Linked DNA regions of Homo sapiens: region 2 is linked to region 1. Evidence: fine-mapped expression QTL. A gene starts in region 1. The other region holds a variant in brackets. All regions are shown on one strand. Distances are from middle to middle.

What was found. PIP is the estimated chance that this variant, and not a neighbour inherited with it, causes the effect.
Region 2: its variant is fine-mapped to the expression of PRDX6-AS1 in whole blood (TOPMed, PIP 0.99).

Annotation. Positions count from the first base shown.
Region 1 is chr1:173,456,167-173,464,706 of GRCh38, forward strand. It overlaps PRDX6-AS1 (PRDX6 antisense RNA 1), which reads right to left and starts at 5,196. Exons shown (of 2, transcript NR_125960.1): 1 at 4,212-5,196. LOC100506023 (a long non-coding RNA gene) reads right to left here. Exons shown (of 3, transcript NR_037845.1): 2 at 6,158-6,288. RefSeq lists an enhancer at 3,926-4,425.
Region 2 is chr1:173,416,720-173,424,719 of GRCh38, forward strand. It overlaps PRDX6-AS1 (PRDX6 antisense RNA 1), which reads right to left. Exons shown (of 2, transcript NR_125960.1): 2 at 1,070-1,903. The region is part of intron 2 of LOC100506023 (a long non-coding RNA gene); the gene reads right to left. It also overlaps a transcript of TNFSF4 not described here. Among named protein-coding and RNA genes, the nearest start is that of PRDX6-AS1, 41 kb to the right of the region's middle. RefSeq lists enhancers at 1,463-1,802, 3,561-3,660. The variant G/GA (reference allele first, on the strand shown) is at 4,409.

The sequences.
Region 1 (8,540 bases):
CCAGAGAAACTACAGATAGAGAAAAGAGCCAGAGAACTTCCTGAGACACACCAACATTCAGAAGTAAGAGAAGAGGTGAAACAGAGAGAGTAGCCAGTGAGAGGCAAACAAACAAACAAAAAAAAAAAATAGGAGAGTTTGGTGTAACGGAAGCAGAGAAAGAAGTGTTTCCAAAAAAGTAATCAACTCTGTCAAATGCATTGAAATTGAAGAAAAGCTTCCATTGGATTTTCTTTTTTTTTTTTTTTTCCCAGTCAGGTTCTCACTCCGTTGCCCAGGCTGGAGTGCAGTGATGTGATCTCAGCTCACTGCAGCCTCAACCTCCCAGGCTCAAGTAATCCTCCCACCTCAGCCTCCCCAGTAGCTGTGTCTACAGGTGCACACCACCACGCCTGGCTAATTTTTTGTATTTTTTTTTTTTTGTAGAGATGGGATTTTGCCATGCTGCCCAGGTGCTGGTCCCAAACTCCTGGGCTGAAGTGATCCACCTACCTTGGCCTCCCAAAGTGTTGGCATTACAGGCATGAGCCACCACACCCAGCCTGGATTTAACAAGATGTATTTCAATGTATGAAGGAAGAGAAAGAAAGAAACATGAACAGAGAAATAAGTGGTAGGAGAAGGAAACGTTGGGTCAAACTAGAAGTTTTAAACCTGAAAAAATATGAAAACTAAGTTGTCTAATATAACAGCCACTAGCCACAGGTGGCTGCTGAGGACTTGAAATGTGGCCAGTATACCATATGTAGAAAGCTGAAACTGGATCCCTTCCTTACACCTTATACAAAAATTAACTCAAGATGGATTAAAGACTTAAATGTAAGACCTAACACCATAAAAATCCTAGAAGAAAACCTAGGCAATACCATTCAGGACATGGGCATGGACAAAGACTTCATGACTAAAATACCAAAAGCAATGGCAACAAAAGCCAAAATGGACAAATGGGATCTAATTAAACTAAACAGCTTCTCCATAGCAAAAGAAACTATCATCAGAGTGAACAGGCAATCTACAGAATGGGAGAAAATTTTTGCAATCTACCCATCTGACAAAGGGCTAATATCCAGAATCTACAATAAACTTAAACAAATTTACAAGAAAAAAACAACCCCATCAAAAAGTGGGCAAAGGATATGAACAGACACTTCTCAAAAGAAGACGTTTATGCAGCCAACAGACAGATGAAAAAATGCTCATCATCACTGGTCATCAGAGAAATGCAAATCAAAACCACAATGAGATACCATCTCATGCCAGTTAGAATGGCGATCATTAAAAAGTCAGGAAACAACAGATGCTGGAGAGGATGTGGAGAAATAGGAATGCTTTTACACTGTTGGTGGGAGTGTAAATTAGTTCAACCATTGTGGAAGACAGTGTGGTGATTCCTCAAGGATCTAGAACTAGAAATACCATTTGACCCAGCAATCCCATTACTGGACATATACCCAAAGGATTATAAATCATTCTACGATAAAGACACATGCACATGTATGTTTATTGTGGCACTATTCACAATAGCAAAGACTTGGAACCAACCCAAATGCCCATCAATGATAGACTGGATTAAGAAAATGTGGCACATATACACCAAGGAATATTATGGAGCCAAAAAAAAAAAAAGGATGAGTTAATGTTTCTTTGCAGGGACATGGATGAAGCTGGAAACCATCACTCTAAGCAAACTATCACGAGGACAGAAAACCAAACACTGCATGTTCTTACTCATAAGTGGGAGTTGAACAATGAGAACACATGGACACAGGGCAGGGAACATCACACACCTGGGCCTGCCGGGGGGTGGGGGGCTGGTGGAGGGATAGCATTAGGAAAAATACCTAATGTAAATGACGAGTTGATGGGTGCAGCAAACTAACACGGCACATGTATACCTATGTAACAAACCTGCACGTTGTGCACATGTACCCTAGAACTTAAAGTATAATAATAAAAAATATGTATATATAAAAGAAATGTGGCTAGCATAAATTTAGATATGCTATAAGTATAAATTACACACCACATTTCGAAGACTCAGTATGAGAAAATATATACAATATCTCATCAATAATTTTTACATCAATTATAGGGTGAAATAATATTTCACATACATTGGGTTAAATGAAATATATGACAATTAAATTTACTTTTTTTTCTTTTTACTTTTTTAATATGGCTACCATAAAATCTTAAATTACATATGTGGCTCACATCATATTTATACTGGAGAGAGTTGTACTAGAGCATGTTTGTATGCTAATATAATGATCTAGTAGAGAATCAGGAATTGATGATGTAGAAAGAGAAAGAGTAGGGAAAAGAGAAAAGACCTTTAGAGCTTAAGCAGATAAGGGGTGATGGACATCATACATAGATCAACAAACAAGTAGAGAAAGGCATGTACATAGATAATATTTGTTGTATCCTTTATACAGAAAGAACTCACTCTTTTTAAACAGCCATGAAGCAGTAATAAACATTTATCAAGGACTAAGTCACAAATAAAATCTCAAATATCTAAAGGTACAGATCACATGGTAATCAAACAAGAAATCAGTATGAAAAAGACAGCAAACTCAATCTAATTACATGGACATTATAAAACAGTTTTCTAAACAACTCTTGGATTAAAGTGGAAATCAGTACTAGAACACAGACTGTTTGAAATTACCAATGAAACAACACTCCATTTCAAAGCTTATGGGATACAACCAAAGTCTTAACTCAAAGGAAAATTCAGAGCTTTCAGTGATCTTCTTAATATATACGGAAGATTGAAAGTAAATGATCTAAGCACCCAGTTCAAGAAAGTTTAAAAAAATTAAAAAAAAAAAAATAAGCCAACAGAGAATAGGAGAAACTAATAAAAATAAAATTCAAAATTAATGAACTAGAAAGCATGGCAAAACAAAATTGCATAGACCTGGTAAATAAAGCAATTGTTTTATTTTGTTTTTGTTTTTAGAATACAACATACAAACCATTAATAAGTGTGAACAAGAAAAAAAGAGAAAGAAAATGCAAATATCTACAACAAGGAAAGAAAAATAATTCAGCATTAAGAGATTTTTAAAATTCTAAAATTCCAAATACCCACCAGTAAATTAGAAAATCTACATGAAATAGACAAATTTTTAGCAAAATGCAGATTACTAATATTAGCTCATGAAGAGAGGAAATTATCCCAATAATCAAAGAAAAACTTGAAAATGCAGCAAAAGCTCTAACTTCAAAAAAAGCACCAGTTCCAGTTTGTTTTATCAGTAAGTTCTAATACATCATAAAGAACAGATAATTCCTGGATTATTTAAACATTCGGCCAGTACAAACTATGAAAAACTTCCCAATACACTTCACTGACAAATTTAATTCTGATACTAAAGTATACTAAATACTAAACAATAGTAAAAATAAAATACATATTGGGTTATTCTTAAAATCCAAAGTCAAATATTAGCAAGTCTAATTAAGAATGCTTTTGACAGCAAGTAACAGAAACCCTGACTCCAATTATCTTTAAAAATGAGGGTATTTCTGAACTCAACAGAAATCTAGAAGTAGGATAAGTTTTAGGATGGGTTGTGGTTTAATTACGTTATTAAGAACCCAGGGGAGGGGGGCCAAGTTGGCCAATTAGAAGCAGCAGCTGTCTGTGGCACTCAGGGAGAGGAAGAAAGGAGCAAGTGAATATAGCACCTTCAACTGAAATATCCAGGCACTCACACTGGGACTGATCACAGAAACAACTCGACCCATGGAGAAGAGAGAAAAGCAAGGTGGGGCAATAGCCCACCTGGGAGCAACATGAAGCCAAGAGAACTCCCACCCCCAGCCAAGGGAAGCAGTGAGTGAGTGTGCAACCCCAGGAAACCACGCTTCTCCCACGGATCTTTGCAACCCACAGATCAGGAGATCAGTGCACCCACACCACCTTGTGCACCCACATCACCAGGGTCTTGGGTCCCACACACAGAGGTGTGTTGAGTCTCAGCAGAGCAGCTGCTCAGGCATGCATAGAGATCCAGGAACTTTACATATTCCGGCCCCAGGATCCCCAACAGAGGTGTCTGTAACTCAGGCAAGGTGGGAGGTCTGTACATACCCCTAGGAAGGGGGCTGAATCCAGGGAGCCAAGCAGCATCAATCTGTGGGTCCCACTTCCACAACACCTCACAAAATAAGACCTACTGGCTTGGAATATAGCCTACCTGTGATGGGACAGAGTCCCCAGTGGGAGGGGTGGGCTGCCATCTCTACTGTTTGGTTGACTCAGCCATTTCAGTCTATGGGCTTCGGAGAATCCATATGGTTCAAACAAGGAAGGGTCTTCCCAGAACACTACAGCGGCATTGCCTGAACGTGGCCAGGTTGCTTCTTTAAGTGGGGCCCCAATCCATTCCTCTTCACTGGGAGGGACCTCCCAACCGGGGCCTCCAGCCATCTCTGCCTGTATTCCACAAACGGATCCTGATCTCTTTCTGGAATAGCATGCCCGAGGGGAGGCGAGGAGGGAAGGAGGAGGGGAGGGGAGGAGGGGAGGAAAGGAGGGCCACCAAGCTGGCTGTTTGAATGACTCAGCCATTCCAACCAGTGGGCTTTAGAGAGTCCAAGCCAACAAGGGCAGAAGCAGTTTCCCAGCACAACAAGGCTGTTCTATTGAGGCATGGCCAGATGGCTTCTTTAAGTGGGACCCTGATCCACTTTTCCTTGACGGGTAGATCATGCCAGCTGGGGTATCCAGCCACCCCCGCCCATGTTCTGTGGCCAACAGACTTCTAATTTTTCCCTGGGACAGAGTGCCCAGAGGGGAAGGCGGGCCACCAACTTGGCTGTTGGGCACCTCAGCCAGTTCAGCCTGTGGGCCTCGGAGAGCCCAAACCAACAAGGGGCTGATGGGATCCCCAACACAGCACAACTGCTCTATCAAAAACAGCCCAACTGCTTCTTTAAGTGGATCCCTGATCCCGTTCCTCCTGACTAGGTGAGATGTCCCAACTGGGGTCTCCAGCCACCCCCTACATACTGTGTGCTCATGCTGGCAACAGGACAGTACCGCCCTGGGATGGAGCTTCCAGGGGAAGGGGCAGGCTGCCATCTTTGCTGTTTCATAGCATTCACTGCTGATACCTCCAAGTACAGGAAAAACTGAGGCAACCAGGGTGTAGAGTGGACCCCCAGCTAACTGCAGCATCTGTAAGGAAGAGTAAACAGACTGCTAAAAGAAAAAGATGAAAAAACAAAACAATCCATGAAAGCGCCATCCAAAGGTCAGCAACCTCAAAGATCGAAGATAGATAAGCCCACAAAAATGAGAAAGAATCAACGCAAAAATCTTGAAAATTCAAAAACCCAGAGAGCCCCTTTTCCTCCAAATGATCACAACACCTCTCCAGCAAGGGCTCAGAACTAGGCTGAGCCCAAGATGACAGAAGTAAGCTTCAGAATGTGGACAAAAGCCAATTTTGCTGAGCTAAAGGTGTATGTCCTAACCAAAGGCAAAGAAGCTAAGAATCATGATAAAACAATGCAGGAGCTGACAGCCAAAACAGCCAGTATAGAAAGGACCATAACCGACCTCACAGAGCTGAAAAACATACTACAAGTACTCGCAATGTAATCCCAAGTATTAATAGCAGAATAGACCAAGCAGAGCAAAGAATCCCAGAGCTTGCAGACTATCTCTCTGAAATAGGACAGGTAGACAGGAATAGAGAAAAAAGAATGAAAATGAATGAATAAAACCTCTGAGAAATATGGGTTTATGTAAAAGGACCAAACCTACAACTGATTGGGGTACCTGAAAGAGACAGGAAGAATAGAACCAAGTTGGAAAACATACTTCAGGATATCATCCAGGAGAATGACCCCAACCTAGCAAGATAGGCCAACATTCAAATTCAGGAACAAGAGAACCCCAGTAAGATAACTATTCAAGAAAATCATCCCTAAGATATGTATCAGCAGATTCTCCAAAGTCAAAATGAAAGAAAAAATGTTGGCTGGGCACAGTGGCTCATGCCTGTAATCCCAGCACTTTGGGAGGCCAAGGTGGGTGGATTACTTGAGGTCAGGAGTTCAAGACCAGCCTGGCCAACGTGGTGAAACCCTGTCTCTACTAAAAATACAAAAATTAGCCAGGTGTGGTGGCACATACCTTTAGTCCCAGCTACTCAGGCTACTCAAGAGGCTGAGGCAGGAGATTTGCTTGAACCCAGGAGACAGAGGTTGCATTGAGCTGAGATCGTGCCACTGCACTCCAGCCTGGGTGACACAGTGAAACTCCATCTGAAAAAAAAAAGAAAAAAGAAAAAAATGTTAAGGACAGCCAGAAAGAAAGACCAGGTCACCTACAAAGGGAAGGCCATCGGACAAGCATTGGGCCTCTGAGTGGAAACCCTACAAGCCAGAAAAGATTGGGGGCCAGTATTCAATATTCCTAAAGAAAAGAATTTCCAACCCAGAATTTCATATGCAAACTAAGTTTCATAAGCAAAGGAGAAATAAGATCCTTTTCAGACAAACAAATGCTGAGGAAATTCATCACTACCAGACCTGCCTTACAAGAGCTCCTGAAGGAAGCACTAAATATAGAAAGGAAAAACCATTACCACTACAAAAACACACTGACATACCAATGATACAATGAAGTATCCACATAAACCTGCAAAATAACCAGCCAGCATCATGATGACAGGATCAAATCCACACATAAAAATGCTAATCTTAAATGAAAATGTGCTAAATGCCTCCCAAAAAAAGATACAGAATAACAAGCTAGATAAAGAGCCAAGACCCATTAGTATGCTATCTTCAAGAGACGCATCTCACGTGCAAAGACACACATAGGCTCAAAATAAAGGGATAGAGGAAAATTTACCAAGCAAATGGAAAACAGAAAAAAACAGGTGCAATCCTAGTTTATAACAAAACAGACTTTAAATCAACAAAAATCAAAAAAGATAAAGAAGGCCACTACATAACAGTAAAGGGTTCATTTCAACAAGAAGAGCTAACTAACCTAAGTATATATACACCCAATACAGGAGCACCCAGAAAAAGAAAGTACTTAGAGACCTTCAAAGAGACTTAGACTCACACACAATAATGGTGGGAGACTTTATCACCCCACTGACAATATTAGGCAGATCATTGAGACAGAAAATTATCAAAGACATTCAAGACCTCAACTCAGCTCTGGATCAAGTGGGCCTGATAGCTATATACAGAACTCTCCACTCCAAAACAACAGAATATACATTCTTCTCATCGCCACAGCACTTACTCTAAAATTGATCACATAATTGGAAGTAAAACACTCCTTGGCAAATGCAAAAGAACTGAAAACATACCAAAGAGTCTCTCAGACCAAGGTGTAATCAAATTAGAACACAAGATTAAGAAATTCACTCAAAACCATATAACTACATGGAAAATGAACAATCTGCTCCCGAATGACTTTTGGTTAAATAATGAAATTAAGGCAGAAATCAAGAAGTTCTTTGAAACCAATGAGAACAAAACTACAATGTCCAGAATCTCCAGAATGCAGCTAAAGCACTGTTAAGAGGGAAATTTATAGCACTAAATGTCCACATCAAAAAGCTAAAAAGATCTCAAGTTAACAACCTAACATCACAACTAAACAAACTAGAGAAAAAAGAGCAAACCAACCCAAAGTTAGCAGGAGACAAAAAATAACCAAAATCAGAGTAGAACTGAAGAAGACAGAGACATGAAAAACCCTTCAAAGAATCAATGAATCCAGGAGCTGGTTTTTTGAAAAAAATTAATAAAATAGATAGACTGCTAGCTAGACTAATAAAGAATAAAAGAGAAAAGATTCAAATAAACACAATCAGAAGTGATAAGGGTGATATCACCACTGACCCCACAGAAATACAAACAACTATCAGAGAATACTACAAACACCACTATGTACATAAACTAGAAAAATCTAGAAGAAAAGGATAAATTCCTGGACACATACACCCTCCCAACACTGAACCAGGAAGAAACTGAATCCCTGAATAGACAATAATGAGTTTGGAAATTGAAGCAGTAATAAATAGCCTACCAACTGTTGGGAAAAAGCTGAGTGTTGGGAAGAAAGCTGAGGCAGGGCTCGCATGTCTGCCACAATGTCCTCTGGAATGTGTCTAGACTTGCTGGCTCCTTGCTTCTAGCCCTCCTAGGCTCCTAGTTCGATTGTATCTTCATTATCTCAAGTAGCAGAACATGTTCCTTATAAATGCCAAACCATCACAGCTGTAGATCATGCACCTGCTCTTCTGACCTCCACATTCTCACCACCTGTTTCTCTGTTGGATTACCAATAAATAGCATGGGCTCCCAGAGCTCAGAGCCTTCACAGCCTCCATACACTAACAATGGCCTCCTGGTTCCACCTTTCTCCCTCAAACTGTCTTTTTCTCAATCCTTTGACTCTGCTGGACTTTGTCACCCCCATGACCTGGTGTTGGGTCTGATCACCCCAACACCAACAAAAAAAAAAAGCCCAGGACCAGACAGATTCACAG
Region 2 (8,000 bases), 40 kb before region 1:
CTGAATTGCTGGGACCACAGATGTGCGCCAGCATGCCCGGCTAATTTTTGTATTTTTAGTAGAGACAGGGTTTCGCCATGTTGCCTAGGCTGATCTCAAACTCCTGGACTCAAGCGATCCACCCGCCTCGGCCTCCCAAAGTGCTGGGATTACAGTTGTGAGCCATTGTGGCCGGCCACAAATGTTATTTTTAAAGCACACACACATTCCTGGTGGAAGGTAAGTATCCTCAGCACCCATTTCCTGAAACGTCTTTTAATCATCACAATATGGAGATTGTATTATTATCTCTATTTTAAAGACAGGGCAGTATTTTCCTGGGGCAGTATTTCCCAAATTGTGTCCCACGGAATGCTAATAACAGTACTAAGAGGTAAGTGGTGCTCACTTTTGAAAATGCTCCTATAGCCAAATATTTTTGAGAAATAATGCAGAGGAATGGTGCATTTGTGAGCATAGACCCAGGAGTCAGAGACACCTCGGTTTGGGGCCGAGCCCCACTGATTATCAGCTTTGCGGGTGCAGCAATAATAATCCTAGCTTCCTTATCTGGGATGTGGGAATAATGAAATACCCGCTTCATAAGGTTCGTGTGAGGGTTGATGTTATGAGGTAACAAATGTAAAGCTCTTAGCACATAGCTGGTGCAAAAAAAGTCTTCAATAAACAAGAACTCTTATTGGCATTGTAGCAGGTTAAATATTGTTAACATCTTACAGCTAGACCTATAATTTTTTTAGGGAGAGATCAATTTTGTTTAGGAAAACATCTTAATAAACCACGTGGAAGCGTGGCCAGCAATGAGACTCTGAAGTTACAAGCCATCAATAACCAAGACCAAAACCTAGAAAACCAAGTTTGAAAAAGCCAGAGTCCCATAGAGGGTGAGTACTGATTTCTCTCATTGCCTGACATTATAACAAAGAGGTTCAGGGCACAAAGATGAGATCTCACCTCCGTCTTCACCTCCCTCTTTTTAGTACTACTCCATCCTTTACAGATTCACCTACACACACTCACACATGCACACACACCACTCCCTTTTCAGGAAGAAAGCTACAGGCTCCAGTTAATTAGAAATTCTACTATTTCAGCTTTATTACTTCCTCTTTACTCTCTGAACTTTAAAGGAACACATTTCTGTAAAGTTTAAATTATTTCAATGAGGTGTATTACCTTTTTAACTGGGGGTGGGAGGGAAGCACTTTTTTTTTCTTTTTTTTTTTTTTAATGTTGAAGACTCCACTCAGTCATTTGAGCTCCAGGAAGCCTTCCCTGGCCACCCATAAGTTAAGAGAAGAGCCCCTCTTCTGAGCTCCCAGAGCACCCACTTCATACCTATGCTATAGAACACACCGCCAAGGACGGAAATTATCCAAAGGTTTGTGTCCATTGATTGCCATGCCAGGCATCCAGCTCTGCTGAAGCACGCAGGGGCCCTGACTTCCTCATTAGGTATTCTCAACACCTCCACCAGCAGCTGGTAGGCAGCAGAGCTATTGTTACTGAGCTGCCCACGGCACCAATGGATCTATGAATGAACCTGAACGTCTTCCCTGGAGAAAAGCACTTGCTTGTCAAGGGAGGAACAGGGGTCTGAAATGCTAACCCCTGCCCTATAGTATGGGTGTGCATACGGTGCACCTTCCAAAGCCCAGAGTGGCATTCTTATTACATCCCGGAAACCCCCTGGTCAGGGGCTTTTGGGGTGACATCCAATATGTAAATACCAGGGTCGGGTCCTGCTGAGTGGCATAACAGTGCCATATGTGAAAGTTCCACCAGCAGCAGAGGGCTCTTTCATTAGTCATTTCACTGCACACAGCTGTAAGGAATCTGGCGAAGCTTGATTTGGCTGGGAGGAGTGCATTTTCCACTTGTAGGCGTCTTGAAAACTTTCATACTAAAAAAAAAAAAAAAATTAACAACAAGAAAATCATCATAGTCCAAAATGAGAAGCCAGAAATTGAAGGTGGAGAGCCAGGGTAGCAAACATAATGGAGGGACTCCAAGACCGGGCTTCCACCAGGACCCTACACTGACTCACAGATGTGTAATGGTCATGGCGAGCCTTACATGTAAACAGAGATCCCAACATGTCCCAGAGGTAGTGGCTGTGGAAGCCTGGGCAGATGCCAGGCAGTATTCTAAGGTTAAGCATTGCTATGGTTTGAATGTGACCCCCAAATTTCATGTGCTGGAAACTTAATTCCCAAATTCACATATCGATGACATTTGGAGGTAGGGCCTTTGAGAGGTAATTAAGATTAAATAAGGCCATGAGTGTGTGGCCCCCACGGTGGGGCTGGTGGCTTTATAAGAAGAGTTAGAGTAACCTGGCCGGGTGCTGTGGCTCACGCCTGTAATCCCAGCACTTTGGGAGGCCAAGGCGGGCAGATCACGAGGTCAGGAGATCGAGACCATCCTGGCTAACACGGTGAAACCCCATCTCTACCAAAAAAATACAAAAAAATTAGCCGGGTGTGGTGGCGGGCACCTGTAGTCCCAGCTACTTGGGAGGCTGAGGCAGGAGAGTGGCCTGAACCTGGGAGGCGGAGCTTGCAGGGAGCTGAGATCACACCACTGCACTCCAGCCTGGGTGACAGAGCAAGACTCCGTCTCAGAAAAAAAAAAAAAAAAGAAGAGTTAGAGTAACCCAAGCGGACAAGCCTGCTCTTGCCCACTTGCCATGTGATGCCCTCTGCCACGTGAGGATGCAGCAAGAAGGCCTTCACCAAATGCCAGCACCATGTGCTTGGACTTCCCAGCCTCCAGAACTATAAGCAATAAATTTCTTGTCTTTATAAATGATCCAGTCTGTAGAATTCTGTTACAGCAATGGACTAAGACAGGCATGATTTGGGGTACAGAGAAGGAAAACTGAGAGGTCACAGAAGAGAGAGGAGGGTGGAAGCTGGGGGAGAGGCACTGATGGAACCAGCTTCCACCCTTCCCTGCAGGGCTTGGAAAGACCCATGAGGACACAAGGGAGAATAAAAGGAAGCAGCCCTGATTGCCATGGCTGGGTCAGGGTCAGGAGGCTAGGACTGCTTTATGTCCCTGCTATAATGGACTTATGGGTTTTTTAAGATTTTTTAAAATAGATTAACTATAGCTCCTAGAGCTGACTCTACTGATAACTTTACCCTGGACTCCCTCCCTGATTTTGACCTTAGTTTGTGTGGCGGGGGGGGGGATGAGAGGCTGCGGTCCAAATGGAATGCAGTTTGCCTGTCCTCTATCAGCATCAATGCATCACCTTTCCCCCGATTTTTACCTCATGATATATTTATGCATTTAACGCATGTTTATTGAGTGAGCTGCATGCAGCAAAATGCACGTAAAAAGCAATTTTTTTTCTTTTTTCTTTGTCCTTTCAACTCCTCTCTCTGGATTTGCCTTGTCCCTGCACTTGAGATGAAAGCTAACCAATACCACGGATTTTCTAGCCACTCTGAGCCATTAAATAAAGAGGCTCTTTAAAACAAACAAACAAAAAAAAAAGTAAAAAACAGTCTACTCAACCTGAAGCTTCTCCCCTCTCAGACTCCTTCACTTCAGGTTTGGAAACTCGGTACCAAGGAGGAAGGCATGGACTTCACCATTTTCTCTCCTCCACCTCTCGTAGCCAGCTGCTAATTCTCAAGCCTCAAGCTGTGAGAGATTGAGAACTGAGGGAAAGGACACAGTACTTGACGGCTCTTACTGTCATGACGCGGCCTTGGTGCCCTCTGGGTTTAGCATGTTTTCCAACGCTTTCCTTTCCAGCCTCACTTAGGCACATTGCAGTTAAAGAATATGGCCACCAGGTGGCAGTAAAGGCCTTTTTTTTTCCTGGCCAGTAGACCCTACCCTCCGGTTTTATATGGCTACATAATTTCTTTAAGATGATGTCAAATATGCTTTCCCTACATTTCAAAAGAAAAGAAAGTAAACACTTAAAACCACAAACTGGTCAACTTAGCAAAAACTAAATATAATTTAAAGATGATGCCCTAGGGAATAAACGTGTAAAGAAAACCTCCCAAGTTGTTAATTATGTAATTACATAACTAATTTACTAAGTCTTTCTCTTCCTCAAATTATTACTGTGTAAGTCTAAATCTTATTCCCAGATCTTGATCATAATTTACCTTCCCTTAATTTAGAGTCAGAAACTTTTCCCCAAAGGCTCCTGTATGGCCAATTGTCATTTAAAGACCTTTATTAATAACAACTATTATACTAATAATATCCATTTGTTTTTTACTATGCACCAGTTACAGTTATGTTACAGTCACTACTTATAGTTATGTGTTGACTACACACAGACTACACACTGCGATAAAACCTAACTGTGGTATTATTTTATCCTCACACCATCCCTACATGTCACCACCACTGCCCCTGCCCGCATTTAGGGTTGCCA[G/GA]AAAAAATATAGGCCGCACAGTTAAATTTGAATTTCAGATAAACAACAAATAATGTTTTAGCATATGTCCCACGCACCATTAGGGACATAGTTATTGCATGGGACATAAATATTTTATGGGACATATTTACACTAAAAAATAATTATTTATCTGAAATTCAGCTTTAACTGGACATCCTAGATTCTTATTTGATAAATTTGGCAACCTGACCCCCATTTTATGGATAAGGAAACTGAACCTCCAGGAAGGTAAGCAATGTAATGAAGGCTAAGAGCTGGTAAGCAGCACTGTGGAGCTGTGAACCCCAGACCCTCCGAACCGGGTTCCCTCCCTACCATACTGCCCCTCCTTGTTGTCTAGGGAATTATTCTCATCTGCCAGCTGCTGGTAAAATAATCTGCCATCCTCAAGTAAAATAATCCTTGTCACTGTTCTCAACTAAATAGAAGAAAAGCTTTTCTTCCCAGCCAAGAAAGAGTCACTGAAAGACAAATTCTCATGACTGATTTTCCCGTATCTGTCTTCCTTGCCAATTTATCGTTTCTGGAAAAAAAAAAATGAAAATCCCCCTTATTTTTTTCCCCACTGATATTCATATTTTTGTAACTATTTCAAGGCTACCTCTAGTAAACTGAAATGTAAATACAACAGTCCATCCCAATTTGTTCTTCTGGCTTAATTACCTGAAACATAATACAGTAATTTAGAACTACGCATAAAGAAAAAAACAAAACAAAATAAAACTGTAATGTCATTGCACTATGAGGATATCAAAACTTTTTGTTGTTGGTTTTTTCCCAGCCATATCTTCCAGTATTTGAGTGATGACAGACCTAGTCAACTTGTATTCCTCTGCAGGATTTACTGTCCTGCACATAATAGGAAAATAAAGCCATGTTACAGTCCCACAGCTATACGAGAACACCTCTCCCCCACAATGTCAAGGTTAGTCCCTAGCAGAAAAAAAAGCGGCAACAAAGGAACGTTTAAAGGAGTTTAAACATGCAAAGTGCTTAGAACAGTGCCAGCCAAATAGTAAGTGCTCAGTAGATGTGAGCTAGTGTTATTATTAACACCTAGAGACATTACCAATGGCCATTACCAATGGGTCTAGAGACCCAGAAATGGCTTTGCATTAATAACTAACAAGCCATAAACAATGCAGAATGAGAGAGAAGGAATGGTGGTGCCCAGAGTGAAAAAAAAAAAAAAAAAAAGGACTGGGAGAGAATGGAGGAAGGCCATTCATTCATTCAACAACCATGTCATGAGTGAGTGCTATGTGCCAGCCTTAAAGGGATGGAGAGCCCAGTGAGAGAGGCAGGTCTTTGTAGTATGGTGTGATAACTGTGCACTGGAGAGAGCAATACCCAGTACGGCATGGGAGTACAGAAAAGGGGAACCTTGGCCAGTCTAGGAGGTCAAAATGAGGTCAGGGAAACTTCACAGAGTGAGACCTCAGCTGACTCTTACTGACCCAGTAACTGCTGACCAGGCTGAGGCTGAGAAGATGGCGCATTCCAAGCAGTGGAGGCAACAGCAAGCAAAGGTGCAGACTTAAAACAACAAAGTGTGTGCAGAGGAGGGGGAGACAATTCAGTTCCCTTCTCTTTGGAAAACCAGTCAATTACCAAGCAATGTAAAGTTACTGGAATGACGGAACACCCATATGTGGGCCCCTGCACAAGGAAGTACAAATGCAAGACTTCTTCCATCTTCAACCAACAGGAGTAAGACGGTGGACACCACCAGATGAGAGAGTTGATGTCGTGGAGAAAGGAGGTTTGTCAGCTTCATGTTAACCACTGAAGAGATGTTACATGTTACATACATATATATATGTACATTTTTTTTTTTTTAGACAGAGTCTCGCTCTGTTGCCCACACTGGAGTGCAGCGGTGAGATCTCGGCTTACTGCAACCTCCGCCTCCCAGGTTCAAGCGATTCTCCTGCCTCAGCCTCCTTACATGTTATATCTTAATTAAGTTATTAATATCACTTGCAAATAAATTCATTCTCACCAATACATGGGGCTTTCACATTGATCCTCATAAGCACCCTCCCTAAATCTAAAATAATAGATTTTATTACTCCCACCTTACATATGAGAAAATGGATTTCCACAGGGATTAAAAGATTTTTCTCAAAATTATATAGCCAATAACAAGAAGAGTAGAAGTTGATCTTCAATGTTGTCCATTATTTTATTCCCCTTCTTTTCCACCTCTTTAATTAAAACACAGCCTTCAAGACCCTGCTTGAATCCCACTTCCTCTGCAAAGCTCTCCCTCCCTCCCCCACAGCACATGACATAGAGCCTTTCATATACCAAGTATGCAATAACAGCTTGATGACTGGTGATGATGATCAGGTAGCAACTGTCAGCCTGTGTGGATGCCTTGTGACCACTGGATAAAGGGGCAACTGCAGTGGTCTGGACTCAGGAAAGAAGTCCCCTAGGAAGGACTAGGCTTTGAGCCAGGTCTTGAAGAAACTGGTAGCTGTGAACTGGTGGAAGCATATGGGGTAGGAAGGAGAACATCCCACCGGTGATGGAGAAGTAACAATTTGTACAAAGACACGGAAGCAAAGTGAACCAAAACTATGCCTATCTTCTATGTCTGCCTTTAATATTATCCTTGGCAATTCCTTTATAATTAGAGAGTGTCTTCATCTGTTTATGCCACTGTAACAAAATACCTGAGACTGGGTAATTTGTAAACAATAAAAAATTTATTTCTCACAGTTCTGGAGGCTGGGAAATCCAAGATCAAGGTGCCAGCAGGTTTGGTGGCTGGAAACGGCCTGGTCTCTGCTTCCAAGGAGGTACCTTACGCACTGTGTCCTGACATGGTGGGAGGGACAGAAGGGCAAAAAGGGGGGTGAATGCTGTATCCTCATGGCAGAAGAACAGAAAAGAACAAACACTCCCTCAAGCTCTTTTGTAAGGACCCTAATTCCATCCAGGAAGGCTCTGCTCTCAGGACTTAGGCCTGTCGTCTTAATACTATCACATTGGTGATTAAGTTTTAACATATGAACTTGGGGGAACACATTCAGACCACACCAGAAAGAAATAGGCAATTCTAGACAAAGTATTTCTTCTCTTTACTTGCTTCTTTAGTCCACACGTATTTTGAGTGCTTCTCATGGGCAAGACTCTATGGGAAGCATAAAGATGAATCAAACACAGCTCTTCCCTCGTGAACAATGTGTTCACTAAAAGAGGAAGACCTATGCATGACTATCTATAACGAAAGGCACAAACTGGAAACAGCCATAAACAAGCTATGAGCTGCTACTAGTGCTTATCACTTCAAAGTAGGGATCTTTGTGGGCCGGTGGGCCCAATGTGATTCTATGAGTTCTTATGAAAGGGGTGCATTAAAGCCAGAGAGAAACTGTCTGTTCCCTTCCTGGAAGCAATGCTGTTGATGCTGGATTTTCAAGGGTACAATTTTCACGGCTTAAGATAGGTTCTGGGCCATTCTAGGCAGAGGGAACCACATGAGAAAAGATATAAAGGTGGAAAAGTTCCAGGTCCCACAAAAAAGAGTGAGGAATTTGGTTTTACTGCAACATTAAGATAA